7 separate regions of the Homo sapiens genome follow, and all the other regions are reported to be linked to region 4. The links are microRNA targets in miRTarBase. Many come from high-throughput screens and were not tested one by one. Region 4 holds a microRNA gene; each other region holds the end of a gene's coding sequence. Distances are between the middles of the regions.

Evidence for each region. Region 4 holds the annotated microRNA hsa-miR-3133 (UAAAGAACUCUUAAAACCCAAU, at 2,435-2,456, shown strand). A microRNA usually pairs through its seed, bases 2 to 8, with sites in the 3' UTR of a target mRNA and lowers its output. Matches are read on the target gene's strand: a 7mer-m8 pairs with bases 2 to 8, a 7mer-A1 pairs with bases 2 to 7 and ends in A, and an 8mer does both.
Region 1: miRTarBase lists SF1 as a target of hsa-miR-3133. Seed matches in the 3' UTR shown: 7mer-A1 at 3,305-3,311.
Region 2: miRTarBase lists MED4 as a target of hsa-miR-3133. Seed matches in the 3' UTR shown: 7mer-A1 at 3,174-3,180.
Region 3: the mRNA of CCDC149 is a reported target of hsa-miR-3133. Seed matches in the 3' UTR shown: 7mer-m8 at 2,287-2,293.
Region 5: miRTarBase lists HNRNPC as a target of hsa-miR-3133. Seed matches in the 3' UTR shown: 7mer-A1 at 292-298, 7mer-m8 at 585-591 and 7mer-m8 at 1,344-1,350.
Region 6: miRTarBase lists TMCC3 as a target of hsa-miR-3133. Seed matches in the 3' UTR shown: 7mer-m8 at 610-616.
Region 7: miRTarBase lists MAPRE3 as a target of hsa-miR-3133. Seed matches in the 3' UTR shown: 7mer-m8 at 600-606.

Annotation. Positions count from the first base shown.
Region 1 is chr11:64,761,997-64,766,068 of GRCh38, forward strand. SF1 (splicing factor 1) reads right to left here. Exons shown (of 13, transcript NM_004630.4): 13 at 2,610-4,072. The coding sequence ends at 3,822. Among named protein-coding and RNA genes, the nearest start is that of PYGM, 4.1 kb to the left of the region's middle. RefSeq lists enhancers at 132-181, 212-531, 1,119-1,992, 1,222-1,271, 1,742-1,841 and 3 more.
Region 2 is chr13:48,073,912-48,077,980 of GRCh38, forward strand. MED4 (mediator complex subunit 4) reads right to left here. Exons shown (of 7, transcript NM_014166.4): 7 at 1,813-3,400. The coding sequence ends at 3,228. It overlaps MED4-AS1 (MED4 antisense RNA 1), which reads left to right and starts at 3,226. Exons shown (of 3, transcript NR_046511.1): 1 at 3,226-3,440; 2 at 3,531-3,642.
Region 3 is chr4:24,804,968-24,809,044 of GRCh38, forward strand. It overlaps CCDC149 (coiled-coil domain containing 149), which reads right to left. Exons shown (of 13, transcript NM_001395273.1): 13 at 1-3,852. The coding sequence ends at 3,422. Among named protein-coding and RNA genes, the nearest start is that of SOD3, 11 kb to the left of the region's middle. RefSeq lists an enhancer at 3,776-4,077.
Region 4 is chr2:241,475,480-241,479,556 of GRCh38, forward strand. It overlaps MIR3133 (microRNA 3133), which reads left to right and starts at 2,426; the gene lies at 2,426-2,503. FARP2 (FERM, ARH/RhoGEF and pleckstrin domain protein 2) reads left to right here. Exons shown (of 27, transcript NM_014808.4): 19 at 378-508. It also overlaps the pseudogene KCTD5P1.
Region 5 is chr14:21,207,402-21,211,478 of GRCh38, reverse strand. HNRNPC (heterogeneous nuclear ribonucleoprotein C) reads left to right here. Exons shown (of 9, transcript NM_004500.4): 8 at 1-73; 9 at 173-2,332. The coding sequence ends at 256. Among named protein-coding and RNA genes, the nearest start is that of LINC00641, 2.5 kb to the right of the region's middle.
Region 6 is chr12:94,568,022-94,572,021 of GRCh38, reverse strand. It overlaps TMCC3 (transmembrane and coiled-coil domain family 3), which reads left to right. Exons shown (of 4, transcript NM_020698.4): 4 at 285-4,000. The coding sequence ends at 587. It overlaps MIR7844 (microRNA 7844), which reads left to right and starts at 670; the gene lies at 670-791.
Region 7 is chr2:27,026,136-27,030,197 of GRCh38, forward strand. MAPRE3 (microtubule associated protein RP/EB family member 3) reads left to right here. Exons shown (of 7, transcript NM_012326.4): 7 at 145-1,084. The coding sequence ends at 213. Among named protein-coding and RNA genes, the nearest start is that of TMEM214, 4.8 kb to the right of the region's middle.

The DNA of each region.
Region 1 (4,072 bases), not on the chromosome of region 4:
AACATGGCGAAACCCCGTCTCTACTAAAAATACAAATATTAGCCAAGCATGGTGGCACATGCCTGTAATCCTAGCTACTCGGGAGGCTGAGGCAGGAGAATCACTTGAGCCCGGGAGGCAGAGGTTGCAGTGAGCCGAGATCACGCCACTGCACACCAGCCTGGGCGACACAGCGAGACTCTGTCTCAAAAACAAACAAAAAAACAATGCTGGCAGCTGTCTGGTCTCTTCCCCTTTCACAGTTTGCACCCCAGCCTCAGCTCCTGGGCCTCATCCCCATCCTCCACTAAGCACAGCTTGGACTCCAGCTTGGCCTGGCATCCAAGGTTCTTCACAGCCCGCACTTGTCCCTTGGAGGGTTGCTGTGAGTAGAGCTGAGACTTCTTGGCAGTCCACTGCCAGGCAGGCAGTAGCTTGTTAACCATGCCGTCACCTCACAGCCCAATCGTGGCAGCCTGCTTTGGCCACACACACCTTCTTTGCATTGACCCCTATTTCCTGCAAGACTTTATGTTCCTGCCACTGAGGACCCGATCCCCATAGACCATCCACATCTTACAGGCAGGGAAGGCCAAGTTCATTCCATCCTTTCCCAGCTACTCTCCCCTCTTGCACCCAGGGCGCTTGCTCTCAGGAACATTTTTACTGGGAAATTTTTAACTTTCTCCAACTACCTTTTCTGTGGCTTCTTTCCGTCTTTGTCATGCCATCACTCCCCACTGTTTCCAGGCTTTGTCCCGGGGTGACACTGCATGCCCCAGCCCAGCATGATCACACCTGGGCAGCACGATCTCATCTGTTTCCCTGCTTCCTCCGCCCCTCCTTGGTGTTGTGTATGCAGGTTTAATGAACCCTGAAGCACTTTTACAACCTGAACTCACTCGAGGTTATTTATGTCTAAGTTTCTAACTAGAAACCCGGCCTCCTTCCTTGGACCAATCCTGGGTTTCTCCAGAGCCCTTGGCTGAACCTCAGTAACAGAGCCCTGAGGCTGACCTTTCCCCACTGGCATTCCTCTTGCCAGGCCTTGCCAGGCCTTGAGGGACGGGGACAGTGCTGCTACAGCAGCAGAAATGAACGTGAGGAGAGGGGGTGGGGCAAGCACAGCCCTGTCACAATGTGATGGAGTAAATGGCTTGCTTTCCCACCCCAGGTGTCTTAAGACAGGTGGGCAGGCCTTTCTCTCTCTGATTCTGCCAGAGGCAAGTGCTTGCCACGGTTCAGAGGGCCAAGCCTTCCTGCTGTCTCTTCCATTTCAGGGCCTCTAGCACCTTGGAGACTGATGCCTTAGTCAGCCACTTCCTCTCCAAAACCTTAACAAAAGCTGACGGCAGGGAGCAGAAAGGGAGGGAGCACAGGAATGGAGCTGGCCTGGGGGAGAGAAGCGGAGGAGATAGCTAAGCTGTGGTTAAGTCATTTATTGATTTTATTTCTAAAACCCACATAGCGCCACTTTGCCGCTTCCAGAGCTTCAAAGAGCTAATTAACCACCCAATGAGCCCACCAGGGAAACCAAGCTTGTGGGAGAAGCAATGAGGTGAAGCCAAGGTCAAAGAGGGTAGCCAGGCCCCAGGCCCTGCCCCCATTCTGCCACTTAAGGACAAAGGCAAAAAAGATGTCCTCCTTTTGGTGAGCCGAAGTTTAGGGCTTGGCTGGGGAAACGCACTGAGCCTGCCTTGCTTCTGAGGGCTCCTCAAGCCTGGCAGACCCATAGCAAAGCACAGGCCTCCTGGACGGGGGACCAGACACCCCAGTAAACAGCAGTAGCCAGCCCTAGCTCACAGCTGGAAAGCAGCCCAGGCCAGTTGCTGGCCCCAGCAGCCAGATGCTGGGGGAGCCTACTGTCCCTCAGCCGCCCTGAAGGAAGGAGAGGCAGGTGGAACCAGGGCAGCTCTAAGGCACCTCTGCCCAGGAGAGGACCTCACTACCTGGTGGAGACTCCACATGGATTTTTCTGGAACCCTAACAGTAACTACCCACTCGCCGCCCAAGACATGGAAAAAAAGCAGAAGACCCTTTGAAAAGTGCTTGCAAAGCACAAGATGGGGCACTTTATCCTGTCCCCCCGACCCCCGCCAAAGCCTACAGCGCTGGCAGGCTGCAAGTCACCAGCAGAGAAGGAAAAAAGCCACTTGGCGGTTTTAATTTTAGCTGCTCTGTGCCTGACAGGCAGGATTAGTTGGCTTGACCTTTAGTGTTGATGCCTCCCCAGGCCCAGGGCCTTAGGTGGCAGCTTCCAGGCACAAATCACCACTGGAGCTCATCAAACGTGGACGTCTGAGCCCCAGGAAAAAGCCTTCAAAGGACAGAGACTAGAAAAATGAGCAGTGAACAAGGAGGGGCAAAATTGGTTCTCAGCGATGTTAACTAGTCACCAAAGGGGAGACTGTGGAGCCACCCACACACTGAGCTCCCACCACCAAAGCCACACACAGGAGGCAGGTGGTGGGCTTCCCTAATTAACCACCCACAGTCTCACCCCCCCGGACCTGGTGCTGAACGAAAGTTAAGGCACCTTTGGTGCTGCTGCTGCTGCTGGTGGTAGAGGAAGTTTATGTGAAAAGAAAAACCGGGCGGGGCAGGCATTAAAAAGAAAATAAAGAAGCAGACCCAGAAAACCACACTGCTCTTTTATTCAATGGAACATCCCCGCTTTAGCGCAGTGTTGAATCTAACACCGAAAAAAGCCCAGAGAAATTTCTGCAGATAAACCAGTGAAGAGAACGCGCAGTATACATTATTGTCAACAGAATCACTTCATGGAGAGGGAAGCGGGAGGAAAAAGGAAGGAGAATGAACAAGGGGCTCAAACCCCTACACACTGCAAAACATTCAGACATTTGGGATTAAAACAAAACATAAAAGGAAGCCTTCCAGGAAGGAGAGGACCAAATGGAATCTGAGGCAGCTCAGGTGATCAAGGAGCACAGGAAGAACTCCAGGCTGGCAGGCGAGCCCGAGGGAGCTCAGGCTGCCCACCCACTGCTGGCAGGATCGCCAGGACGGATGGGAATCCCGAAACCTGGAGATGAACCTACCCTCGGCAACTTTACAAGACTCCCTTGACAAGGGTGGCAGAGATTAAAAAACCCCACGCTTTAAACAAACATCTTTGGGGGTGGCTATGGCACCTTGAAAAACCCACAACCAGCTTGACATGAATGGCCAAAGCCCTTGCCCAAAACCATTTGCTCCCCTCTCCTTGGTAAGGGAAGGAGAACTGGAGAGAAGGGAAAGGAATCTAAATTGCAGCAGAAGACCGGGGAGAGCATCTCCTTGGACGGAGTCTGAAGAAAGGAAAAGATAAAGAAGTAACAAAGGAAAAAGAAAAAAATTAATAAAAATTTCACGATATGGAGCCAGCGTGTTCCGATTCCGTCCACAAAAATAACTCAGGCTGCTTTGCCGAACCATCCTGTCCACCAGGGGCGTTGCTGAGGCTGTCTGCCTGGAAGGGTCACCAATGGGCGCGGAAAGTCCTCACTCTCATGGCTCGGGCCATCGCCGCCGCGGGGAGGGATCCTGGCGGCCCGGTTTGGGGAGAGGCAAAGGGAGTTGGGTGAGGAGAGAAAGAAGACAAAGAAGACACTCGATGCTACGGGGCGCCAGGAGAGCCCAAGCTGGCGCCCCTACTACCACCTGCCCGTTCCCAAGCGAATCCTCAGTCGCTTGGCCCAGCCCAGTGCGTGCACACACACACATGCGTGCACACACAATCACATGCGTGCGTCCCAATGTCTGGCTCCATATGGTGAGGTTCGGCGTGTTTAAACGAGACCAATTCTCTCTATATATAATATATATTTTCTTAAAAAACAAGTCTAGTTCTGTGGTGGAGGCGGTGGGGGAGCTGGAGGCATCCCGAAGGGCGGCATGCCCGCCACCCCCATGCCCATCATGGTGACAAAGTTAGAAGGGTCCATGGGAGGCGGAGGAGGAGGGGGCGGGGCATACATCATGCCGGCGGAACCAGGCGGTGGAGGCGGCGGAGGGGGAGGGGCCCCAGGCGGCAGAGGCGGCTGGACCCCGGGGGGCAGGGGCACCATAGTGGGGTTGCCTTGCATCTGAGGGG
Region 2 (4,069 bases), not on the chromosome of region 4:
TTCACATGTCACAAGTATGGCAGAAGTTTAGGAGGATAAGATTAGTGGAAGAGAGACCCTTAAACAGTTACAAGTCTTTCTAGCACCAAGATCATTTCAAAAAAGCTGACCGACATCCCCAGAGTTAAAAGTTATACTTATCAGTAGGAAAGAATAAACAGCCTACAGATTTCCTTAGAGGGGACATTGGAGAAACAAATACAAGATAGTAACTTCCTATGAACAAATTTAGAAATCTGCCTACAGAAGTGTGGCTTTGCAAATGTTTTTCTTCCTCTACCCTTTGTTTTTATCCCCAAGGTGTTTCCCTTTACCACTTAAAAATAACTGCTGATGCAGCTGAGGGATGGATTTGTCCACTCACAACCTCAGAATACATAATTCTTAGGCAGATCTCACTCTAGCTTCCCAAAGCGACAACTGCACAAAGTTATACCAAGATCAAAAACTGGTACTTCTGAGCCCAGCATGGTGGCCTGTAATCCCAGAACTCTGAGAGGCTAAGGCAAGAGGATTGCCTGAGGCCATGAGTTCATGAACAGCCTGAGCAACAAAGTAAGACCTCATCTCTGGAAAAACAAAGAAACAAACAAACAAAACAGGCACTTTTGGGCTAGATTTGTCCCACAGTTTATATAATCTAATTTTAAAAGCCTGGGCATACACTCTAGTTTTGGCCAAAATTTCTACCACTCCCTGTTAAGTAATATCTAGCCAACTCCTTACATTTGTGTGAGTGGCCTCGTCTCTGAAGATAAATTTGAGTTTATGACCTTTTATAGACATCATTTCCAGAGGCAGTTATTTTAAGGGCATCTACTGGGACACACACAAAAACCTTTAAAAAAATTTTTCAGGCTGGGCGCAGTGGCTCACACCTGTAATCCCAACACTTTGGGAGGCTGAGGAGGGTGGATCACGAGGTCAGGAGATCAAGACCATCCTGGCTAACATGGTGAAACCCCGTCTCTACTAAAAATACAAAAAAATTAGCCAGGCGTGGTGGTGGGCACCTGTAGTCCCAGCTACTCAGGAGGCTAAGGCAGGAGAATGGCGTGAACCCAGGAGGTGGAGCTTGCAGTGAGCCGAGATAGAGCCACTGCACTCCAGGCTGGGTGACAGAGCAAGACTCCGTCTCCAAAAAAAAAAAAATTCAGAAATATATAGACTTATGATATTGACTTAGTACTGATAGAATGTATATTTGTGTAATTTTCAGGGGAAAAGTTTGGATTATTTCTGATAGGCTGGATAATGACCCCCTTTCCCCAAAGATGTCTAAATCCCAATCTACAGAACCTATGAATGTTGTTTTGTTACATGGCAAGGAAGAATTAAGGTTGCAAACAGAATAAAGGTTGCTAATCATCTCACTTTAAATAAGAAGATTATTCTGGGTTATCCAGTGGGCTCAGAATGATCACAGGATCCTTTAAATATGGGACAGGTAGGCAGAAGAGCATCACAGTAATGCAGAATGAGAAACACTCACCAACCAGGGGCCTGGAGCAGGACCAAGGGCGGCCTCTAAAACCTGGAAGACACAGGGGACAGATTCTCCCCTATGGCCTCCAGGAAGGAATGCAGCCCTGCTCACACCTTGATTTTAGGTGAGACCCACTTCACATTTGTGATGTACAAAACTAAGATAAATTTGTGTTGTTTTGAGCCAAGTTTGTGGTAATTTGTTACGGCAGCAACTGAAAACTAATACAGTATTAAAGAATTTGAAAAACACAATCCTTTTGAATCTACCCTAAAGATTTGGTGATAAAAACAGGCAGTTACATTATGGCACATACCACAATAAAATTTTAGCCATTAAAGTAAATCTTTCAAGAATGTATACACATGGATCAATATTCCTAGTATACGGACAAGGCAAGGTTAAAATTAGATATTGTGTTAGTCCATTCCTAAAAATAACCCTGGAGGGAAAGACATTCAAACATTGTATGTCCTTAATTCTAGATGGTGAAAATATAAGATTAATCTCCTATTTTCCAATTTTTCTAGAGATCGAAAATAATCAAAAGGAAAAAATGATGGAAAAATGGAATTCTCAGTTCATTTGAAGAATACAGATTAGCAATTAAAAAATACAGCAGTATCTCAGGAAATAAACATTATTCTCATTTTACAAAAAAGTGTATGTGAACTTTAAAAAAATCTACACTACAATATGAATTGATATTATCTCTGGGTAGAATGCTAACAATTTTATTTTCTCCTTTACTGTATTCACTAAATGTTTCACATTAAATGTTGTATTACCTTTGAAATCAGAAGATACATTGTCTAAAACTGATACATCAAGAAATAGTTGTATAAGCATATTACCTAAACACAGAGGTTACCAACAGAAATTAAAAGTGGTTAAAAATGACTCCTGGGGAACTGTAAGAAGAGGAAGGTGAAGGGAAGAAATGGTTGCTTTCCATTCTAAATCTTCACACAATCTATTCTTAAAATCAGACAAGGCTGTGGTAAATTTTTTCAATTATTAAAAAAAATTATTTCTTCTAATAGGAATAGGCCTTTGAGAACCCTATTAATTGTAATAGGTTTCAATTCAGTTAGTCACTCAAGTATTATAAAATGCAACTGGATTTACAGAAATAATTTCCTACCTACACTGACAGTATATTTAAACTAAAAAAAAAGCATACAATGTACAAACAAATTTATTTACAAAAATTACAATTACAAACTGTACAAATTGAGACAATTTCCCATGCCTCCAACAGAAGCCAAGAGCCTTTACTGTCAAATGGCAGTTTTTGTTACTTTTAAATGACACACAAAAAGAAATATGATGCCTATTCAGTCATCCACTGCCAGTTTAAAAATGCTTTTCTAAATAATTCCAAGAAGCCTATTAGTGATATGTATATGGATAATTTCCCTCAACTCTATTTCTAGAATGGCTATGTACAAATCCAGCAAAACTGGAACAGAACAGGGTAAGAAAGCACATAGCAACTGCTTTTTCAACAGTAAATTTTGACTATTCCCCTAAATATCTACCTAGTGGCTTAAAACTAAAACTATGGTCTTTGGCTTTAAAAAGAAAGTCAAAAAATTTTGACTTTTAATGACTGCACAATTCTACCAAAGCCAGTGTTTACCTGGGTATTTTTTGTCACCTGTAGTTTACATTTCCCTGCTACTGTTAAAGAAACAGAATTCTACAGTATTCAATTCTGTATATTGTCTTTTAAGGTTTTTCAATCAGACTCACTACTACTGCTTGAGGAGTCCGTTGACATAATCTCTACATCATCTTCATTTTCTTTATTATGCCCAGGAGGTTCCAACAAAAAGTCACTACTATGATTTGGTGGTAACATATTCATCGACATGTCATTTGACTGCCATGGATACTGTGGAGCAAGGACATCTGGAGAAAAAAAGAAGCATAGATAAGAACAGCTCTATCTGTAATTAATCTAGTTCTTACTTTTCCCTTTATGCAACAATTTGAAGTATTTTTTTTAATTTTACTTTTTTCTCTTCTTTTTTTGACACAGGGTCTCATTCTGTCACCCAGGCTTGAGTGCAGTGGCACGAATACATCACTGAAGCCCTGACCTAGGCTCAAGCAATCCTCCTGCCTCAGCCTCCTGAGTAACTGGGTTACAGGTATGTGCCACCATGCTTGAGTACTTTTTAAAGTTTTTGTAGAGATGAGGTCTCACTATGTTAACCAGGCTGGTCTCCAACTCCTGGGCTCAAGCTATCCTGCTACCTCAGCCTCCCAAAGTGTTGGGATTACAGGCATAAGCTATTGTGCCAATTTTTTTAAGACTAGGAAAAAAATACACATTTAGCCAAATTAATAAAAATCAAATTTATCAAGGAAAAGTTGATATTTTAGCAACTGGGGACTTTTTTAAAAAAATCATACTACTCTGTAAGAAACTATTTAGTCAGTTGACATAATTTTTCTTTTGTAAGACATTTGTAATTACAAATTTTTCCTGTATCTATGTATCTATTATATGCATATATAATACATACTTATGTATACTAGGTTATGTAGATTATTCTACATATTATAAACAAGTAA
Region 3 (4,077 bases), not on the chromosome of region 4:
TGGGAGCAAGAGAAGGAACGGGGAGGGGAGAAGAAGGTGGGCAGAGAAGGTGTGGAAGGAGGAAGAGCAAGAGTGAGGGATGAGAAATGCCTGGTTTACAAAAACCAATCCACTTCTACAGGCCTTAATCAAAAGAAAGACAAACGCTCATGTAAAAATCCACACCTAGAGGCTCTCAGGCACAGAGCGATCACAGGAGAGGCAGAGTGTGCAAACAAGCTTTCATTAAGAGACCTGTCAGCTCTGTTTCATTTCTCCAGGCTGCTCTGCATTCTGCTGGCAATCCAGCCGGAAAAATAATGGAAGGACAAACACGTCTGAACAGGCAAACAAAGGTGGGAACATTCCACCTACAGAACAGGACAGATCAGAAAGATGCCAGGGAGGGGGGATGAGATGGCTTTTTTCTGAGCAAACAACCATAGCCCCTCCCCTTAACTCCAAACTCATCGGAAACATGATTTTCTGGCTTTTTATGCAGCAACAAAAAGACATGGGGTTCAGAGACAGCACCATTGGTTGTCTATTCCCAACTCTCTTACACATCCCAAGATATGATTCTGTTTTGGTGTTCAGCCTTTTAGAGTCTGAATGTCTAGCGACAGGGCCCTTCTTCAGTTCTTAAGGGTGAATCTTGGTGAACCTAAACAGATCATGGTAATACCATCTCCCTTGCTAAGAAATGGTTAAGACATTGCCATGTGACATCATCATGTGACAAGGTCTCATGCGACCACAAGCCCCAGGTGATCATTCTGACCAATAAAATGTGATAGGAACTGGGTTTCTCGCTCTTGAAACACACACACACACGTATGTGGGAAGAAACTTCCTTCTGCCTTTGAACAGGTGTTATCTGGAGCTGTTGCAGCCACCTCGTTATCATGAGAAAGCAGCTGACACAGCAGGAAGAGCAGGAAGATGGAAACCTAGAACCTTGACAACTTTCTTGAATGTATAGCCCTGGAATGCCTTACTTTCGAAGTTCCTGTTATACAACATAATTCATTTCCCTACCGCTTAAGTTTCTGTTAAGTGTGGCTTGAAGCTGAGAGGACCATGACTGATGCAGGGTTATCTAGTGAAGTAGGGGACAGAATGCCACAACCTTAAACTTTGATCCTAAAAAAGACAAAAGACAGCTGTAAGTAATTGCAGAAAGCCCCTTTAATGTCTGTGGAACAGAAGAACCATGTTGGATGGGGAAAGCAGGGGCAGGACACACGTGTCGCGTATCTATGGGGTGTTATCAGGGTTATATCTGTGACAGGATCAACTAACTTACTGGCTCTCATTTCACCTGATAACATAAGACCCTCCCCGCTGACTACACACAGTTTAGGTTATCACTCCTTATGACTCCTGCTCCCTGCCCTGCACCCTAGATTCTCTGGGACTCACTGCAGTTTTCCTGACTCTGATGGAATGTGCTGGAGTCTATTACGAGCCCTGCTTTTCAGAAGGTGCTCAACAGGCCCTGAAGATGTGCATCTGGCCGATGGTGGGTCAAAACCAGAGTTCTGCAGGCTGAGATTTTTCCTTTTATTATTATTAAACTTGGCTGTGTTTTCCTTCGGTGGCTCTGGCATCCTATGCAGTAGTGCTGGACATTTGCAGGCAGTTAAGGCCCAGTACAGCAGGAAGAATGATTTCTGTGACTGCTGGTCTGTGCAAGCCCTCCAGCTGCGGGAGCAACCTCCCTTGAGGAGAAGTTGTGGGGGTGGGCCTGGTGGGGAGGGCGATAGGCTGGGACAGAAGGAAGGATGGAATACTGGACCTGGTGGCCAGGGGTCAATGGGATGTCCTTCTCACCAGAAGCAACAGAACGCCGACTCCAGCATGCTCCCATTTCAACTAAAGTAGTGGGAGACCCACCCAATGTGCATCAAAGGCCTGGGTCCTTCTGGGCTGCACTTTGAGGAGGAGCAGCATAGTAAGGGATGGGGCGCCCATTCTGCTAGCAGAGTGATTCCTGGAGATGCAATCTGGGAGGGATGTATCCACGTGGCTGACCCCTCGTGTCCAGATGTCACATCTTAGTGTCATGAGCCTGGTATAAACATTGAATTTTTAGGATGCATTTTCACTGAGAGGCTACCACTCTGGGAGCCTCTCTTTTTCCTGCAAGGAGCGCCTCTCAAAGGAGTGATTCTGGTTCTCAGAGGCATTCTGAGCTTTGGGATCTAGTCTCAGGCTTTCCAGGGAAGGAAAAAGCTATGGCTGGATGACTTTTAGTTTTCTGCAGTGCCGGATGCCAACTAGAAAAGCTCATTTTTATCTGAAAGGAAAGAACCAGCTAGAATTGAGCATGCCCTCCTTTCCCATCCCTGTATCATGTCCTTGGTTCCACATCCCCCCTTGCCATGCTGTTGTGAAGTTGTTTTGTTTTCCTCTCTCTTTCCCATAAAAGGTCATGAGCTCTGTTTCTGTCTTTAAGATTCCCGTACTTGGTGGCACAAATGAGGCAGCCTCAACATTCTGTTGAAGGAGTGAAGGGTTTGGAAGTTCCAGGTGGTGCAGGAAACTAGACTGGCTCCCAGCAGGTAGATCTTTCCCAAACCTGAAATGGCCATACAATCCTGTATGTGAGACAGGCTGAATGCAGAGAATGAGCATTTCCAGGTGGTAGCTCTCATCTCATCTCACAAAAAAAACCAGACCACCACTGGGAGTCCTGTTCCCCGGCTTTTATGCTCACCCCTCCCAGTCACTTCAGATCAGTTAATTCTCCAGATTTACAAGCTAGAAAACTCCAGCTCTGGCACTCAGCACACAGGCCTCAACCGGGGCTGTGGATTTCAACCCAGAAGCCCAAACTTCTCAGCCGGCTTAAGGCCCCTTCCAACTGCCAGTCTGTACCACGACAGCAGTGCTGTGGGCACAATGCCAAGCACACCCATGCCAGGCAGTCCTCCTGGGCCCTGACTTGATGGGGTGCAGCCATGGGTCCTCTGGACACGTTTTGCTCAATTATACCTTCCTCTCCAGCTGCCTAACCTTGACCAAGATGGGGACCTGATTAAAAACCCCATCAGTTTCTAGCTCTTCCCATAATTTTGATTGACAACATTAAATGCTAATACAAAAACATCTTATCTCTGATAAAACAAAAGCTGACAGAAAGACGGATGCTGAAAACCAGCCATATGGTGGACACGATTCCTGGGCCTGGCCCTGTTCACAGTAGCACTCTCTGGCAGAAAAGAGATGACACTGAGAAGCTTGAGGACCTACATTTAATAAATCAAACTGTACTGGCATCATCAGAATATTCACAGTTTGCAACAGGATCAGTGCGTTTTCTCACTTGCAGACTCGGAGGTATTTCAGGAGAAGGCGACGTGAGCGCACCATTCCGATGCTTCATTCTTGACCCTCTCTGGGGCTTTCAATGTGTCATTGTGTCAGATCCCTCTCCCCTTCAGGTTTTCACGGTGCTCCTCATGCCTCCGCCCTCTGGGATCCCTTTGCCGTCTTCCGGTGTGGAAGCTTTGGCTGCTGGCCGGCTGGCCTCGAAGGAGTCCAGGTGAGATTTAGGGAGCTCCCCCTGGATGGCCAGGCCTGGCGGGGCTGGCCCCGTCTCACTCCTCTGACCTTCTATGGGACTCTCTCTTCTGACCTCTTCCAGTTCTGCAGCTGCCTGTTCCTTTGTCAGTTTAATTATTTCCCTCCCAAGGCTGTTTACTTCTTCCTCAGAAGGTAACTGGGGTAATGAAGGATGAAAGAGCTTGCATTGGTTCCCGCGGCTCTGATTTGCTGGGGAGTTGACAGCGGGCCTCCCAGCATCCTCAGGCGCTGTCAACGCCTCAGCAGCGGCACAACTTTCATCTTCTTCTTGCTTCTGAGCCTCCCCTGAAAACAGAACGAGGACAACATTAAACCTCTGGCAGCAAATCAGCCCTCACCGCCCCTCTTCTGCCAACCTCCTGCCCAGCCTACCAGCACAGGGCCTCTGAAAAAGGAGCAAGACTTTTTTGGCTCCCTGTGCAGGGCAATGGAGCCAAAGGGGAACACAGGACCCAGGTGAAACCAGCGAGCATGCATTCTAGTGATTCCTGCATTATTAACAGAGGGCAA
Region 4 (4,077 bases):
ACCTGAGCTCCTCCTCCTGTCAGATCAGCAGCAACATTAGATTCTCATGGGAGCACAAACCCTATTGTGAACTGCACATGTGGGGGATCTAGTTTGTATGCTCCTTGTGAGAATCTAACAAATGCCTGATGATCTGAGGTGGAACAGTTTCATCCCCAAACCATTCCTACCACCTCTGGTCTGTGGAAAAATTGTCTTCCATGAAACCCATCCCTGGTACCAAAAATGTTGGGGACCGCTGCTATAAGGAGTCGAGTAGGATGTACCTCTAATTAGAACTGCCTTTTAGAATGCTGGTTCCTGTCACAAGGTGGTGGGTGGAGGGTGCTGTGCACACCACTGCCTGTACACCTGTACTGAGGGGTCTCTCCACACAGACGCCCTGAAAGCCATCACAGAGGTGACCACCACACTACAGCACATTCTCATCCGGCTGGAGAACCTGCAGAAGCTAACGGAGCTGCAGCGGGACCTGGTGGGCATAGAGAACCTCATTGCTCCTGGCAGGGTGAGTGACCTTGCTCTGGGAATGTTTTTTGAGCTACTTTGGTTTTTCAATTGAGATATAATTTACATACCACAAAAGTCACCATTTTAAAATGTATAATTTTGGCCAGGCACAGTGGCTCATACCTGTAATCTGAATACTTTGGGAGGCTGAGGTGGGAGGATCGCTTGAGCCCAGGAGTTCAAGACCAGACTGAGCAACACAGGGAAACCCCATTTCTATGAATTAAAAAAAAAAAAAAAAAAAAAGAATTGCTGGGTGTGGTGGCGCACACCTGTGGTCCCAGCTACTCAGGAGACTGAGATGGGAGGATCGCTTGAGCCAAGGAGGTCGAGGCTGGAGTAAGCCCTGATCACAGCACTGCACTCCAGCCTGACAACAGAGCAAGACCCTGTCTCTGTTAAAAATGAGTAAATACAGCCAGGCACAGTGGCTCACGCCTGTAATCCCAGCACTTTGGGAGGCCAAGGCAGACAGATCACCTGAGGTTGGGAGTTCGAGACCAGCCAGACCAACATGGAGAAACCCTGTCTCTACTAAAAATACAAAAAATTAGCAGGGCATGGTGGCACATGCCTGTAATCCCAGCTACGCAGGAGGCTGAGGCAGGAGAATCGCTTGAACCCGGGAGGTGGAGGTTGCAGTGAACCAAGATCACGCCATTGCACTCTAGCCTGGGTAACATGAGCGAAACTCCGTCTCAAAATAAAATAAATAAAATAAAATAAAATAGGTACATATATACATACATACACACATACATACATACAAAAAATATATAATTGAGTGGGTTTTAGTATCTTCACAAGGTTATGTAGCCATCAATGTCGAATTCAGAACATTTTCATCACCCCAAAGTGAAACCCCCACAGCAATTAACAGTCACTTCCCATCACTATTTTGAAGGGAACCCTGTTCTCAGGAGACTCTGTTCTGAGGTAACCCTGTTCTGGGTGGGGATGCTGTTCTGTGGGGACCTCGTTCTGCTCCCTAACCCCTGGCAACCACTGATCTGCTTTCTGTCTCTAAGGAGTTACCTGTCTGGGCATTTCATAGAAATGGTATCACACATTAATGTGGCCTCTTGTGACTCTTCTTTCACTCAGAATAATCTTTTCAAGGTTCATTCATGTTCCTTTTTTTTTTTTTTTTTTTTTATTTGAGACAGAGTCTTGCTCTGTCACCAGGCTGGGGTGCAGTGCCGCGATCTTGGCTCACTGCAACCTCCGCCTCCCAGGTTCAAGTGATTCTCCTGCCTCAGCCTCCCAAGTAGCTGGGACTACAGGCACATACCACTATGCCCAGCTAATTTTTGTATTTTTAGCAGAGACAGGGTTTCACCATGTTGGCCAGGATGGTCTCAAGCTCTTGACCTTGTGATCCACCCACCTTGGCCTCCCAAAGTGCTGGGATTACACGCATGAGCCACCGTGCCCGGCCTCATGTTCCTTTTTGTGGCTGAATCATACTCCATCATGCATGTATCACACGTCTCTCCACTCATCTGATGGACACTGGGTTATTTCCACTTCTTGGCTGTTACGAATAGTGCTGCTGTGGACGTTCATGTACAAGTTTTGTGTGGACTTATGTTTTCAGTTTTGAGTATATACCATATACAGGTTCATATGGTAATTCCATGTTTAACATTTTGAGGAACTGCCAAACTGTTTTCCAAAGTGACTGAACCATTTTTCATTCCCACCAACTCGTATGAGACTTCCAGTTTCTCACATCATGTGTCACTTTTTGGTTCTAGCCATTTTAGTGAGTGTGTAATGCTGTCTTGTGTGGTTACAATTTGTATTTCCCTGATAGCTAATGATATTGAGCATCTTTTCATGTGCTTATTGGCCATTTGTAGGCCTTTTTTGGAGAAATGTCTATTCAAATCCTTTGCCCACCTTTTATTTTATTCAGAAATTGTAAAGAACTCTTAAAACCCAATAGTAAAAAGACAACCTGTTGAGTTTTAAGAGTTCTTTATATATTCTGAATGCTAGACCTTTATCAGACTATGATTTGCAAACATTTTCTCCCATTGTGTGGGTTGTCTTTTCACTGTCTTGATGTGGCCTTCATTTACAACATGAAAGCTTTTAATTTATCTATTTTTTTTCTTTAGTTGCTTGTGTCTTAGATGTTATATCTAAGAAACTATTGTCAGCCAAGTGTAGCGGTGCACACCTATAGACCCAGCTACTCGGGAGGCTAAGGTAGGAGCATTGCTTGAGCCCAGGAGTTCAACGTTGCAGTGAGCTATGATCCCACCACTGCACTTTAGCCTGGACAACAGAGTGAGACCCTGTCTCAGAAAAAAAGGAATTAATGCGAGCACTGCCACCTGCCTGGGGCAGCCTTAGGGCAGGGCTGGCGGGGGCGACCTGTGCTGCTGCAGTGCAAGACTCAGAGTGCCGTGGCCCAGCACCCGGTAGCTTGTCCAAATGGCTCTGGCTCAACATTGGTGGCACCTACTTTCTCACCACCCAGCAGATGCTGTGCCAGGACCTGAAATACTTCCTGTACTCCTTGTATCAGGCTAACCCCGACAAGGATGAAACTGTTGCCTATTTAATGGACAGAGACCCCACCTATTTTGGGCCTGTGTTGAACTACCTGAGACGTGGCAAGCTGGTGATTAACAAAGACCTTGTGGAGGAAGGAGTGTTGGAAAAAGCAGAATTTTACAGTATCACTTCATTAATAAAACTTGTAAAGGACAAAATTAGAGAACAAGAGAGCAAAACATCACAGGTGCCCATGAAGCATGTGTACCACGTGCTTCAGTGTCAGGAGGAGGAACTCACACAGGTGGTGTCCACCATGTCCGACAGCTGGAAGTTTGAACAACTGGTCAGCAATGGCTCTTCTTACAACTATGGGAATGAAGATCAGGCCAAGTTCCTCTATGTGGTGTCCAAGAAACTTCACAACACCCCATACAGTATGGCCAGTGAACCCAGAAAGAAGGCCAAGATTTTGCAAGAACAAGGTTCAAGGATGTGAGGGACACAGTATTGACAGCTGAAAAAATGATTTACTCTTTCCCAAGATGCAATGAACTACCATGTCCAGGAAGCTTGGCTGCGAGAAGGAACCTGCTTTTGATCATTTTTCTAGAGATCTGGGTGTGAATCCTTTTGTGCTTCTGAGGTGGGTGGTGAGAGACAGGTCCAGCTGTCCAAGGCCAGGTGTCCCCAAGGGGAGGAGCATTCTGGCCAGGTGGGTACTATCTCTTGAGGGGGGCCAGAGACTGAGGCAGATGCTCCCAGTCAGCCCACTCAATCCCCGAAGATCATGTAAAGGACAGAGTTCTTGGTACTACACATAGTCTGTAAAAGCAGCCTGCGCTTCACTGGCAGGAAGCGGCCACGGCCTCATCGGCATCCAGCACGCCGTGGCCTCGGGTCTGGCTGCCAGGCCTTAGGCTCAGTCAGGAGTCTGCTCTGCCTCCCAGGTGGGATCGCTGGTTGCTATCAGCCTCACAGAGCTCCTGACAAAGGTGGCTTCTGCATCATCACTACTTCTGAGTGCCGTTTCAAGGCCAGGCCTCTTTCCGACACAGGCTA
Region 5 (4,077 bases), not on the chromosome of region 4:
GGGTGCAGATGACTCTGCTGAGGAGGGGGACCTACTGGATGATGATGATAATGAAGATCGGGGGGATGACCAGGTGAAAACCACGGGAAAGGAAAGAAAAAGGTGGTGGAGGGGGGCTCAGGGACACATGGAGTGCCTCTAACTCCATCCTGTTTGTGTCTGTTTCTCACAGCTGGAGTTGATCAAGGATGATGAAAAAGAGGCTGAGGAAGGAGAGGATGACAGAGACAGCGCCAATGGCGAGGATGACTCTTAAGCACATAGTGGGGTTTAGAAATCTTATCCCATTATTTCTTTACCTAGGCGCTTGTCTAAGATCAAATTTTTCACCAGATCCTCTCCCCTAGTATCTTCAGCACATGCTCACTGTTCTCCCCATCCTTGTCCTTCCCATGTTCATTAATTCATATTGCCCCGCGCCTAGTCCCATTTTCACTTCCTTTGACGCTCCTAGTAGTTTTGTTAAGTCTTACCCTGTAATTTTTGCTTTTAATTTTGATACCTCTTTATGACTTAACAATAAAAAGGATGTATGGTTTTTATCAACTGTCTCCAAAATAATCTCTTGTTATGCAGGGAGTACAGTTCTTTTCATTCATACATAAGTTCAGTAGTTGCTTCCCTAACTGCAAAGGCAATCTCATTTAGTTGAGTAGCTCTTGAAAGCAGCTTTGAGTTAGAAGTATGTGTGTTACACCCTCACATTAGTGTGCTGTGTGGGGCAGTTCAACACAAATGTAACAATGTATTTTTGTGAATGAGAGTTGGCATGTCAAATGCATCCTCTAGAAAAATAATTAGTGTTATAGTCTTAAGATTTGTTTTCTAAAGTTGATACTGTGGGTTATTTTTGTGAACAGCCTGATGTTTGGGACCTTTTTTCCTCAAAATAAACAAGTCCTTATTAAACCAGGAATTTGGAGAAAAAAAAAACCCTGGTTTTTTATTTTTGTATTTTATTATTGTTTACTTCAAACTTTGTTTTACAGCGTCCTCCACAAAACCTCTAGAATGCACTAGATATATTTTTCTTGGAGTCATAATCATGATGCATACCAACACAACACTACTCAAATTATATTTCATTGAGATGCATGTTGCATTGAGGAGTCAACTTGACATAGAGTGGAGACTTTTTCAAAATGGCTTTTACATCCTAATGAAAGTTTGGGAAGTATATCCTCTCTGCCTTTTCATCAGTGCTTTGTGGTCCAGCTGGCACCCTTTCTGAGGTTTGTGTTTTGTGCTAAATGGTTTTGTCCTTAAATAGGAGAGGCTCAAAAACATCAAGATTTCAGGAAAATGGCGACAGCTGCATAATGGAACCCCCCTGCTTCTATTTTGTTCTTTTAATTACTATTTATAGCCCCAGTTACCTTCTGAATTCTGAAGTGTATATACCTCCATGTTCCTGAAAACAAGAAAACTCTTACTTCCTGATATTCCATAGACTGCCTTCCCAGGTGATTGAGAACATAGAGAATGTTACACATTTATTTTACTCTAAATGATCTTTTACCCCTGTTAGCTAATCTTTGTGTTTTCCTCAACTTTATTAATTACAGTGATTGCATTTTTAGCATCCAGTTGTAAGATGAATATATTAAACAGCTACCAGTGTTGGTGATACCTCATCCTTGAAAGGCTTAGTTCATTTGTGTTTTATACTTCAGTTTTTCCAGCATAGCAGAAAATGCCGCTTATAATTTTTGTGCACACAAACCTTGGATTCCCCTGTAAAGTTGCTATTGTTTCATAGCATGCGGCACTGGCCTTTTTTCATCCTACTCATTACAGGCAAAACTCATGTCTTATTTATGAGGATTTTATAGATCATTTTCTGTAACAGGTGACAAAAGCAGAAAAGAATGAAGAGGCTGAAGTATGAACTACCCTTGGAGCCCATATACATGATATAGGCAATTTCTTTTGTATGTTAATTCAGTCAAAAATACTACCCACTTGATGTTTTCTAATCTGATGTGAGCTCATGTTACACAGACTTTTAGTAAGTAACCCGTGACTAGAAAATAAACTGGATGCTTAGGAGAGAGTGTCAGATGTATAAGATGCTAATAAAACCTGTTTAATATTATTGTTAGCTGTAAGTTTTTGGGAAATACTGAACAAATTAGTCCACAATCAAGTGTCTACTTTTCCCTTCACTGTAGGGCCTCTCCCTGCACAGAGCAGTCTGTTTAGCTGTGAACACCACAATCTGCAGATGTTCAAGTCCCTTACATAAAATGGCATAGTATTTATATGTAACCTATGCATATTCTCCTGTATATTTTAAATCATCTCTACATTAAAATACCTGATAAAATGTAAATGGTATGTAAATAGTTGTAACTTTTTTTATTTATATTTTTGTTAACTTTTTTTAGTTTTTTTTCTTTGCTAGTATTTTCGATCTGTAGTTGGCTGAATCTGCATGTGCAGAACCCATGAACATGGGGGGCCAACTATACATTTTATTCTAGGAAAGCAGGTATTGAATGAAGCTGTGGAGAGCGCTTTTTAATATTAGGTTGGTGCAAAAGTAATTGTGGCTTTTGCCATTACTTTTAATTAGCTGCAGTTACTTTTGCAAATAGCCGTAGAGCATGATCACAGATTGAAAATCTATACACACATATGGTAGGGTTGTTGGAATACTGACATGTCTAGTTTGTGTTGATGGGGAAGTCATTTCACGCTCTTGGTTTTAGGCTACGCTACTGTGGCTTAAATTTCCTCGTGTTTAAGACAACAGTACTCTAGGTTTTCTATAATCACAGGTGTACTCATTGAGTACTTTGACATTTAGGTTCCTAGGCCAAAACTGTAGCAAAGTAAAGAGACCAGGATTGAAATACCACATGGTAAAAGGCTTTTAAAAATCTGATCTAATGCAGATAAGTACAGGCTTTTTGGGAAAGGGGCTAGTGTTTTTAAAGGCCATTTATCAGATGATATGCTTATAGTCAGTGTGACATTACTTAACCCTGGGCCCTGCAAAGTAAGAATTGAGTTGGCTCAATAGAAATTCAGAATAGTAGGCATGGCAGTGCAGGTAAAGGGGTTAGATCTGACGGTAATAATTGAGTGATTTCTGATTTAATAATTGAGGGATTTCAGATTGATAGTCTGATTACACTGCAGTAGTGGAAGTAAGATTTAAAAGTAAAAACATTTTAATTTGGGATAAAATTCAGAACACAAGTTTCTCAATATGCCATGAAATCTAAGAAAATGTCCTGCAATCATTCAAGAATGCAGTTTTCATTTCAGGGTTAGAAAGCAGGAGAGGAGGTAGATAAAAAATCCTTAGTAACATTTTTTTCTGGTGCTGCATAACGTATAATTGGGAAACTTCTTCTAGGGTAATTAATAAATTGCTGCTGTCTCAGTGGGATGAGCTAACTGGAAGCTGTCAGGTGGGAATGGATGCTAAATTTGGGATTCTCAAAAGGAGGGCTCCTCTTGTATTTCACTTCTGATGTTAATATTACCCCAACATGCAAAGATTGTGTGATTAGTACCTATTACTTACGTGGTTTAAATCCTCTTTTTCAGAGGGAACCGGGTGTAATAGAAAAGGAAAATAATGTAAATGGGAACAAAAAGGTGGTAAATTGGAAGGAAATGAACAGGTGTCAAATTAGGATTGGGAAGAATGTAATAGTACAATAGACGTAACCATCATTTAAACCATAAGATAACCATGAAGTGTGAACATACGAATCTACTATAACTTGGCAGTATGTTTTATTCAAGTGTTAGGGGAAGCAAAACCCAGTGTATAATATAGAAAGTACAGAAGTAGAGCAGATGATACACTATATGCAAGTACTAGTGTTTTGAGATAACCTTGATGAAACAATGTGCTTTTGAAAGTAGTCGCAGGATAGAGAAATTGTGTATATTTAATGTGATCAGCTCAGGAACATATGCCTGGCCTGTCAGCATTGACTGACCAATTTTATTTCAGGGGAAAACCAGAAAACATACTTATTCCTACTGACAGTTGACCTTTTTATTTATTAGGGGAATTCAGCTACACTGATGTCAAATGGAGTTTCAGTTTCTGGACCC
Region 6 (4,000 bases), not on the chromosome of region 4:
CTCAAAAAAAACAGGTAAAGTCAAAAAACTTAGCCATACTTCCTCATTTATGGTATTTTGTGGTTGTATCCACATGCTCTTCTACTCGTGAACAACAGGAGAAAATGAGCCTGGGATTCTTGTTCCACATCTTTGTCTATCACCATCATCATCGGTTTGGGGATTTGCAGCCGCCTGGGCATTGGGCTTTCTGAGCTGGGGCTTTTGTGTACAGCTGAGCGAGCACTCACGTGTTGCTCACCATCCCAACACCGTTTGACCCTTGCTCTCCCTCTTGCTCACAGGAAGCCTTGGAATCCTGCCAGACTCGCATTTCTAAGCTGGAGCTCCACCAGCAAGAGCAGCAAGCTCTGCAGACAGACACCGTGAATGCTAAAGTTCTCCTGGGGAGGTGCATCAACGTGATCCTGGCCTTCATGACTGTCATCTTAGTGTGTGTGTCCACCATCGCGAAGTTCGTCTCACCCATGATGAAGAGTCGCTGCCACATTCTTGGCACCTTCTTTGCCGTGACTCTTCTTGCTATATTTTGTAAAAACTGGGACCATATCCTGTGTGCCATAGAAAGGATGATAATACCAAGATGAAGCCACTGGTTCCTGCCTTCAAGTTCTTTCAAGTTTTTATTTTAAAGAAAACTCTGTGCATACTACCAAATTTTACAGTGAATGATTGTGCGGACTCGTGTGTAAGAAAAACTAGGACTGTGTGGTGTAAATAACTACAATTCTCTTAACTCCGTAGCAGTTGCCAACTCAGTCCTTGTACTTCGTTAACACGAATCTGTTTCAGAGCTCTCCTACCTTGCTCACTGCCTTAATCAGACCGATTTCCTGCCCACCTGACCAGCCCAGCGTGGTAAACCTCTGTATATTGAGACCTTGGCATAATTGGTGATCCTGAAGAAAGAGGTCTCTCTCCTAAGTCTCTGTCAGAATTGAGCTTCACAATTGCTAATGGTTGTTTTCTGTGAGTCCTATAAAAAGCAAGGATATGCATGATTCAGGGAATGAAGAATCACAGGCTTGGGCAGTGTTAAACACTGTGGCCTATGGTCCCCGTGTGATCCACCCTGCTTCTCTCCAGGGGACCATAGGTCCCGTCATGTACTCAGTGTCCACAGCAGTCAGTCGTGTATGACCCTGTAACGTGGAAATCTTATCACACACCTGTTATCCAACAAGTCTACCTGAGGGGTTTTGTTACACTTTAAATGGGAAGGCATAGGGATTTATGAATGGGGCTTTCACCTTCTCATACCCAGGCAACCAACACCTGATTTTGTCTCAACTGGCTAGCAAATGCCCAGCCTTCAGAGTGTGCAGGAATGTTTTCAAATCCCTCATCAGACTGTGACTTTAACATTAATTTGGAATCCTGTGAGCACTACTCTGAAGGTTTGTGTTTTGGCAAATCTTTTTTCTTTTTTGAGACAGGGCTCTGCTAAATATTGCTCAGGCTGGTTGCAAACTCCTTGCTTCAAGGGATCCTCCCACCTCAGCCTCCCAAGCAGCCGGGACTGCAGGCACAAGCCACCATGCCTGGCTGTTTTTTGGCAAATCTTGATTGTGATAAGCCCCCCTGGAGGATATGATTCACTTTATGTGATTCATCTTATTCACAGGTCTGTGAGGGACTGCAAAGCTTACTCAGGAAATGAAAACAAATGATGGTCATGTTGCAGTTTTTTCCTTGAAGGACAACCGAACCATAGCCTCTAAAGTTCAAGTGCACTGAGGTGTCGGAACGCTGAAAGCATGAGGAAACGAGGACGTAGGGTGTGACTGAATGGTGGCTAGATTAGTGGGAGCAGTTCACCTGGATGAAGATTGAGAGCATCGTCTTTGAGAAGTGAAAGACTAGCAAGAATAAAATAAATTAAGTCCAGTGTTTGAGCCAAGGTTGCCACCTGTCTCTTAACATCTCACTGAACATAAGTCCTGAGGTATTAGGACGACCATACTGCCTCTGAGCTGAAAACATTCAAAAGTTCACATCCCTGTTTGGGGGATACCATTCACCGCCTTCAGCCCAGATGATACTTTCCTTTAAATCTGTGTCTCTGTGTGTATAACAAAGAGGAAGATGGAAACAATGTTCATGGAAACTGCTGTTGAGCCCCTTGTCCCACCACTCCCGCCATCTGCTGCAGGCAGGAAGGCATGTGAGTGTACGTTTTCTTCCAGGAGACATCAGGTCCCCCTGGATTCAAATTAAGTGCAATATTTTGCAAACAGCTCTTCTTAGGGAAATCTCCTGAAGGAAAAAAATGTGACAGAATGTTCCATAGTCTGAGAGAATGGAATCGTTGAGCATTTAGTACAAGTCCAGTGTGTGTGAGCGGGACTTAGGCAGCTCAAGCTTGCTTTTTTTTTTAAGCGTACAATTGAGTGGTTTTAGTAAATTCACAAACTTGTTCAACCATCACCACTATCTAATTCCAGACTCACGCTTTTTTAAACAATAAATGTCATTTCATGAAATCTTTGGTGATAAAGTATTTTGGATTCAGAGAAGAGCTCCCTTACCAGTCCCACCCTGATCTCATGGCTGTCTCTCCTTTCATTGTCAGACTCCCCCTGGTCTACCGCGTTGATGTGTATACACTGATCTTTCAAGTCTGGGAGACAGATAAGGAGGCCAGGTGCAAGGCAGGGAGGCAGAGAGAATGTTGTGCTTCCTTTAGCTTTTGTATTTCGATGGCCAGCATTACCCTTTACCTGTGGGCATCAGACTCAGCGTGGGCTGAGTGCTGAGTGTAACTTACACTCCTAAATCAAGCTGGGGCCTGGGTGGGCCCCTCTTGGTATCTGTGAATCTTTCCAAGCACCACTTCGGACACACCAGGGATTGAGTGCTGCTGTTAGTTTAGAGAAGGAGAGATGTCTAACCCTTGAGGTGAAGGGCTCTGGGAGGGTCCAAGAAGACGTAGGCTTCATTTTCACACCAGCCCACACCATTCCAGTGCTCAGCCTAGCAAATGTGCTTTAATGCACACTTCTCAGACCTGTGATCCGTGTATCTTCTCCCCAGTGACAGAAGTAGAGAAGAGAATGGAAAGCAGCACACTCCGTCCCCTCTAGTCTGGAGCTGTTAACAGAATCTGCTAGAAACTAGCTTTATTCTAACATACCGTAGGATCTAAATCCTCCTACCTGGATCATGAATTCCTTTGAAATAATTCATATTTTCATTGACTCTCACTAAATGTCAAATAACCTTGTTTTCACTTGGATAGGCTCAACCTACCTGGCATATTTATTTTGCAGTCTTGTTGAAAGTTCATGAAACTTTGTACTTTTTAATAAGATGATACACTCGAAGGAAACTTTTAATCTCTGCAGTTTATTCTCTCTTAAGGAATAAACACTCCCACTGTTTGTTCTCTTCAATGTGTAAGGAGATTAAATGACATTTTAGAAATATTACAATTAAAAATAGTGATGTAGCTGTAACATATGCTGGAATTGGATATTTAATTTATGTTTGTGTCAACTATAATCCTTTCCCCACCCCTTTCATTTATGGTAAACATCTTGGGCAAACCCAAAGATGGAAAGTGCTTGTTGGGTGGGTAAGCACCACCTGGTCTCTCAGCAAACACTCCTGAGTGGTTGAAGATGCTGGACATTGGATTCTAGCACTGGGTTTATCTGGTGACATAGTCTCCTGTGGGTCTTGAGTTGGTTATTTCAAGCTCAAACTCTGAATATGATTAAACCAGAACACCCCACCCCCAACTGCCAAAAAAAAAAAAAAAAAATGGAAATCCATAATGAAACAGCAAAAAAGTACTCCGTTGCTGGGTTTGGACAATGAACATGGGATTAGTCCCAAGTTTGTAGCTTGGAACGGTAGCATTTTTGCCTGCGTGATCCTTGTCAGCTATTCACAGAAGGAAATCTTCCGAAACTCCGTCTTTCATTTCAGCCGGTGAGGCTGTTATCCTTCTCTGTCAATTAGCATTCATGTGGTTTTCGCTCTTTCCAGCTCTGTCACT
Region 7 (4,062 bases), 210 Mb from region 4:
AGAGAGGTGAAGTCACTAGCCCAGGGTCACCCATTAGCAGGGCTCCTGGACTCCTGACCCCTTGCTCTTCAGCTACTTACAGAACCTGAGAAGCCCTGCCTGGCCTGCCTGGCCCACCACTTTCCTCTCTCTCCCACCCTCCAGGAAGGATTCGCACCCCCTGAGGACGATGAGATTGAAGAGCATCAACAAGAAGACCAGGACGAGTACTGAGGGCGGCCGCAGCCCTGGCTGACTGCACAGCTTCCCCGTGCCTCCCTCCCTGCTCCACTCCCACATTATAGTCCTTTCCTAACACGGTCGGCCGGGTGCTTTGTGTCAGTGCTGCAGCACTGGGGAGCCAGGCGAGGGGGGCTTGGGGGCATGGGGCCGGAAAGCAGGCAGAAGCCCGTCCTGGGTGGTGCTGGCCCAGTTGGTGGGACCCCTGTCCACACCCACCCTATTTATTTCCGTTGTCTCTCTGCTGTGTCGCCCAACACTTCCCAGGGTGCTGCTGCCACCCGCCCCAGCCAGCCACCTGCTCCTGACAGCCAGCAGCTGTGTATTTGACAAAGTCATTGGTATATTTTTACTTACTGGATTCTCCTTGCACTTTACCTGTTCTTTTCCAGAGCTGACAGCACGGGCTCCGGCGCAGTGTGCCTGGCTTGGCTTCCCTTCCCCATGGCTGGGGGCTGGGGTAGGACTCACCCATTCTAATTTATTTTGTCTTTTGGCTTCTCAGTAGCTAAGGGGAAGGCTGATGTCAGGAGAGGGAGAGGGGGCTGAGGAGGTAGTGCTGTAGGCCCAGGGGGTCAGGGAAAGGGAGGGGGGCATGTGAGGGATGGAAATGACCTCCTGGCACCAGGCTCACCCACCCAAGGCCCCCTGCCCCAGCACTGAATCCCAGCGCTGCCCTGAGGCCCCCAGCCACTCCCTCCAGCAGCCTGGTTCACCACACAAACTCTGCCTGGACCCCATTGTCTGTCTGCTTCCCACCTGCCCTCCCCACCCCCTGCCCCTCGGGCACCAGCCTGCATATGTGTTCACTTTTATTTAAATAAACTTGTGTGGTAAAAGTACATGCCATGTGTCCCTCAACTGAGCCACAGTCCAGGTCCAGTGCTTTCCACCTCCCATGCACCGCTCTCTCCGGAGGTGATAGCGGCAGCACAGCCTCACTGTCACCCTCCCACAGGCCTGGAAACCACCACCAGCTCTGGGCTCAGAGCCCAGCTCCAGCCTAGCCCCAATGCCCAACACTGGTGGTAGGGCTCTGAGGGCAGGTAGGGGCCCCAACCCCCCGTCACTGAGGAGGAACTAGGTCTGGGCCCGTGGCCATGACAAGGGACAGCCGGTGAAGCGGCTGTGGGGCACCGTGGTGGCCTGGCCAAGAGGTGCTTCGTTTCAGTCTCCTTTGGGTCAGGGGGACTGCATGTCATCCCCCACCTGTTGTCAAAGCTCATACAACTCATCATAGTGATTCAGCTGGGGACAAGGGCTCACGTGACAGAGAGAGCTGGGATGGCCACAAAGAGCAAGGAGTTCTGAGTGCTGAAGCCCGGGACAGCAACATCCAAGGGGTTCCTTCTGTAGAGCAGGCTCCAGTGGGAACAGGGAATCAGGAACCCTTCCACATCACCTGCACAGCCCCAGTCCTGGCATGTGCCTAACAAAAGGCCATACTAACCGATGTCCCAGAAGCCCAGCAGAGACCAAGAGTGCAGAAATGAATGTGAGAGCCTTGGGGTCATCTAGACCAGCCCCCGGTTTACTGATGAGGGGTCAGAGGCCCACGTGCATGACTCAATCACCGTGGCTGAAACCTGGACTAGAACTCACACTTCTTGACTTGAGGTTCAGGGCTCATCCCCAAAGACCACTGAGGTTCCCCCAGCTGCAGGACAGCGCTGGTTTCCTCACCACCCTGAGTATGGTCAACATGCAGATGGGGCCGTGTCTCTTCTGTGGCCCCACCCCATGGCCCCTTTTGAGACCACCACCATTTCTCTCATGACACCAGGTTCAAGCCTTAAATAAGCAATTCATATCTGTTTATTCCTCAATCACCTCCACCACCCCTTTTGACTCCCCCCCCCCATACATAGACACTTCTGCCTTATTCTATCTCTGTTCTCCTCCAGCAAGTTCCTTGCCTGCTTTTACTTATCGTGATGATTTTAATTCCCTTGCCTAATTTTTAAAGGCTTTTCCCCATGATTACAGGTAGATACCATGAAAGGATAGGCCAGGCCGAGACCTCACCCTGAAGGTAAAGTGGGTGTGGGAGGCAGAACAGTGCCTCCCCCAATGTCCACATCACAATCCCCAGAAGCTGTGAATATGTGGGTTACATGGCAAAAGGGAATTAAGCTGCCTGTGGGCCAGGTGCGGTGGCTCACGCCTGTAATCCCAGCACTTTTGGAGGCCAAAGCGGGAGGATCACTTGAGCCCAGGAGTTCAAGACTTCCCTGAGCAACATAGGGAAACACCATCTCTACAAAAAATAAAATTTGAAGGGCGTTGTGGCACGTGCCTGTAGTCCCAGCTACTCAGGAGGCTGAAGCAGAAGGATCACTTGAGCCCAGTTGTTGTTAAGGCTGCAGTGAGCCATGATTGCTCCACTGTACCCCAGCCTGGGCAACAGACTGAAACCCTGTCTCAAAAAAAAAAAAAAAAGAAAAAAAAGTTGCAGATGGAATTCAGGAAGTTAATCTGCTGACCTTAAAATAGGGAGAGTGTCCTGGTTTATCCAGGTGGGTCCAATGTCATCGCAAACGTTTATAAGAGTGGAAGCAGGAGGCAGAAAGGGTCAGAGTGGGCAGGGTGTGGTGGCTCATGTCTGTAATCCCACCATTTTGGGAGGCCAAGGCAGGAGGATCACTTGAGCGCAGGAGTTGGAGACTAGCCTGGACAACAGCGAGACCCCATCTTTACAAAAAATAGAAAAATTAGCCGAGCATGGTACTACATGCCTGTAGTCCCAGCTACTTGGGAGGCTGAGATGGAAGGATCATTTGAGCCCTGGAGGTCAAGGGTGCAGTGAGCCATAATCATGTCACTGCACTTCAGCCTGGGCAACAGAGCAAGATCCTGTCTCAGAAAAATAAAAGAAGAGGTCAAAGTGAAACAATGTGAGAGTGACTCACCCACTGTTGTTGGCTTTGAAGACAGAAGGGAGCCATGAACTCAGGAATGCAGGTGGCCTCTAGAAGCTGGGCAAGGCAAGGAAATGGATGCTCCCCCAAAGCCTCCAGAAAGGAACCCAGCCCTGCTGACACCTCGATTCTAGCCCAGGGAGACCTGAGTTAGACTCCTGCCCTCCAGAACTGGAAGATAACGCCCTTGTTTTAAGCCACTAAGTTTGTGGCAATTTGTTTTAGCAGCAATAGAAACGTAGTACAGTGGGTAAAACAGTGCTTCGGTGAGCTCACCCTTCTGCTTGCTCCCACACTAGACACCCATGTCCTCCTTGACCCAACATCTTTTGGGTCTTCAAACCCCACGGCGGGGCCTACCCAAGCCCACCTCCGTGGCTAGTGTCTAAGGCTGCTCTTCAAACACCCAGAACTTAAGGATGTAAAGCCACTCCCTTCTCCCCACCTCTTCCTGGTACCTCATACTAAGTGCTTCTTTCCTCTGGAACACTAAGATGGTGAACTGTAATTTTCTGTTTATACATTTGTCCCCCACACAGACTTCAAGTTCCTTACAAGCAAGTGAGCTATATCTTCCAGCTCCACCTAGCACAGGGCCTGACACAGAGAAGGTGCTTAGAAAAGGTTGCTGGATAAGTAAATGCATGATTTATATGTCCTAGATGCCAAGTTAGAACTGGTAACTTACTAGACTATTCCAATGAAAGATAGAGTCCCTCTCCCACCCTTCTGTGTGTCTCCACCATGGGGCAGCCCCCTCATTTGCCTCAATGGAAAGCCAGTTCTGTTTCTCTTCCAAAAACATGGTCTCTTCTGTGATCATACATGTGACACAGGAGGGGTCAAACAAAGAGAAGATATTGTTGTTGGTCTCCTGAGTACACCTAAACCAATGATCTGCAAAATGAATTGATTAATGATCAGT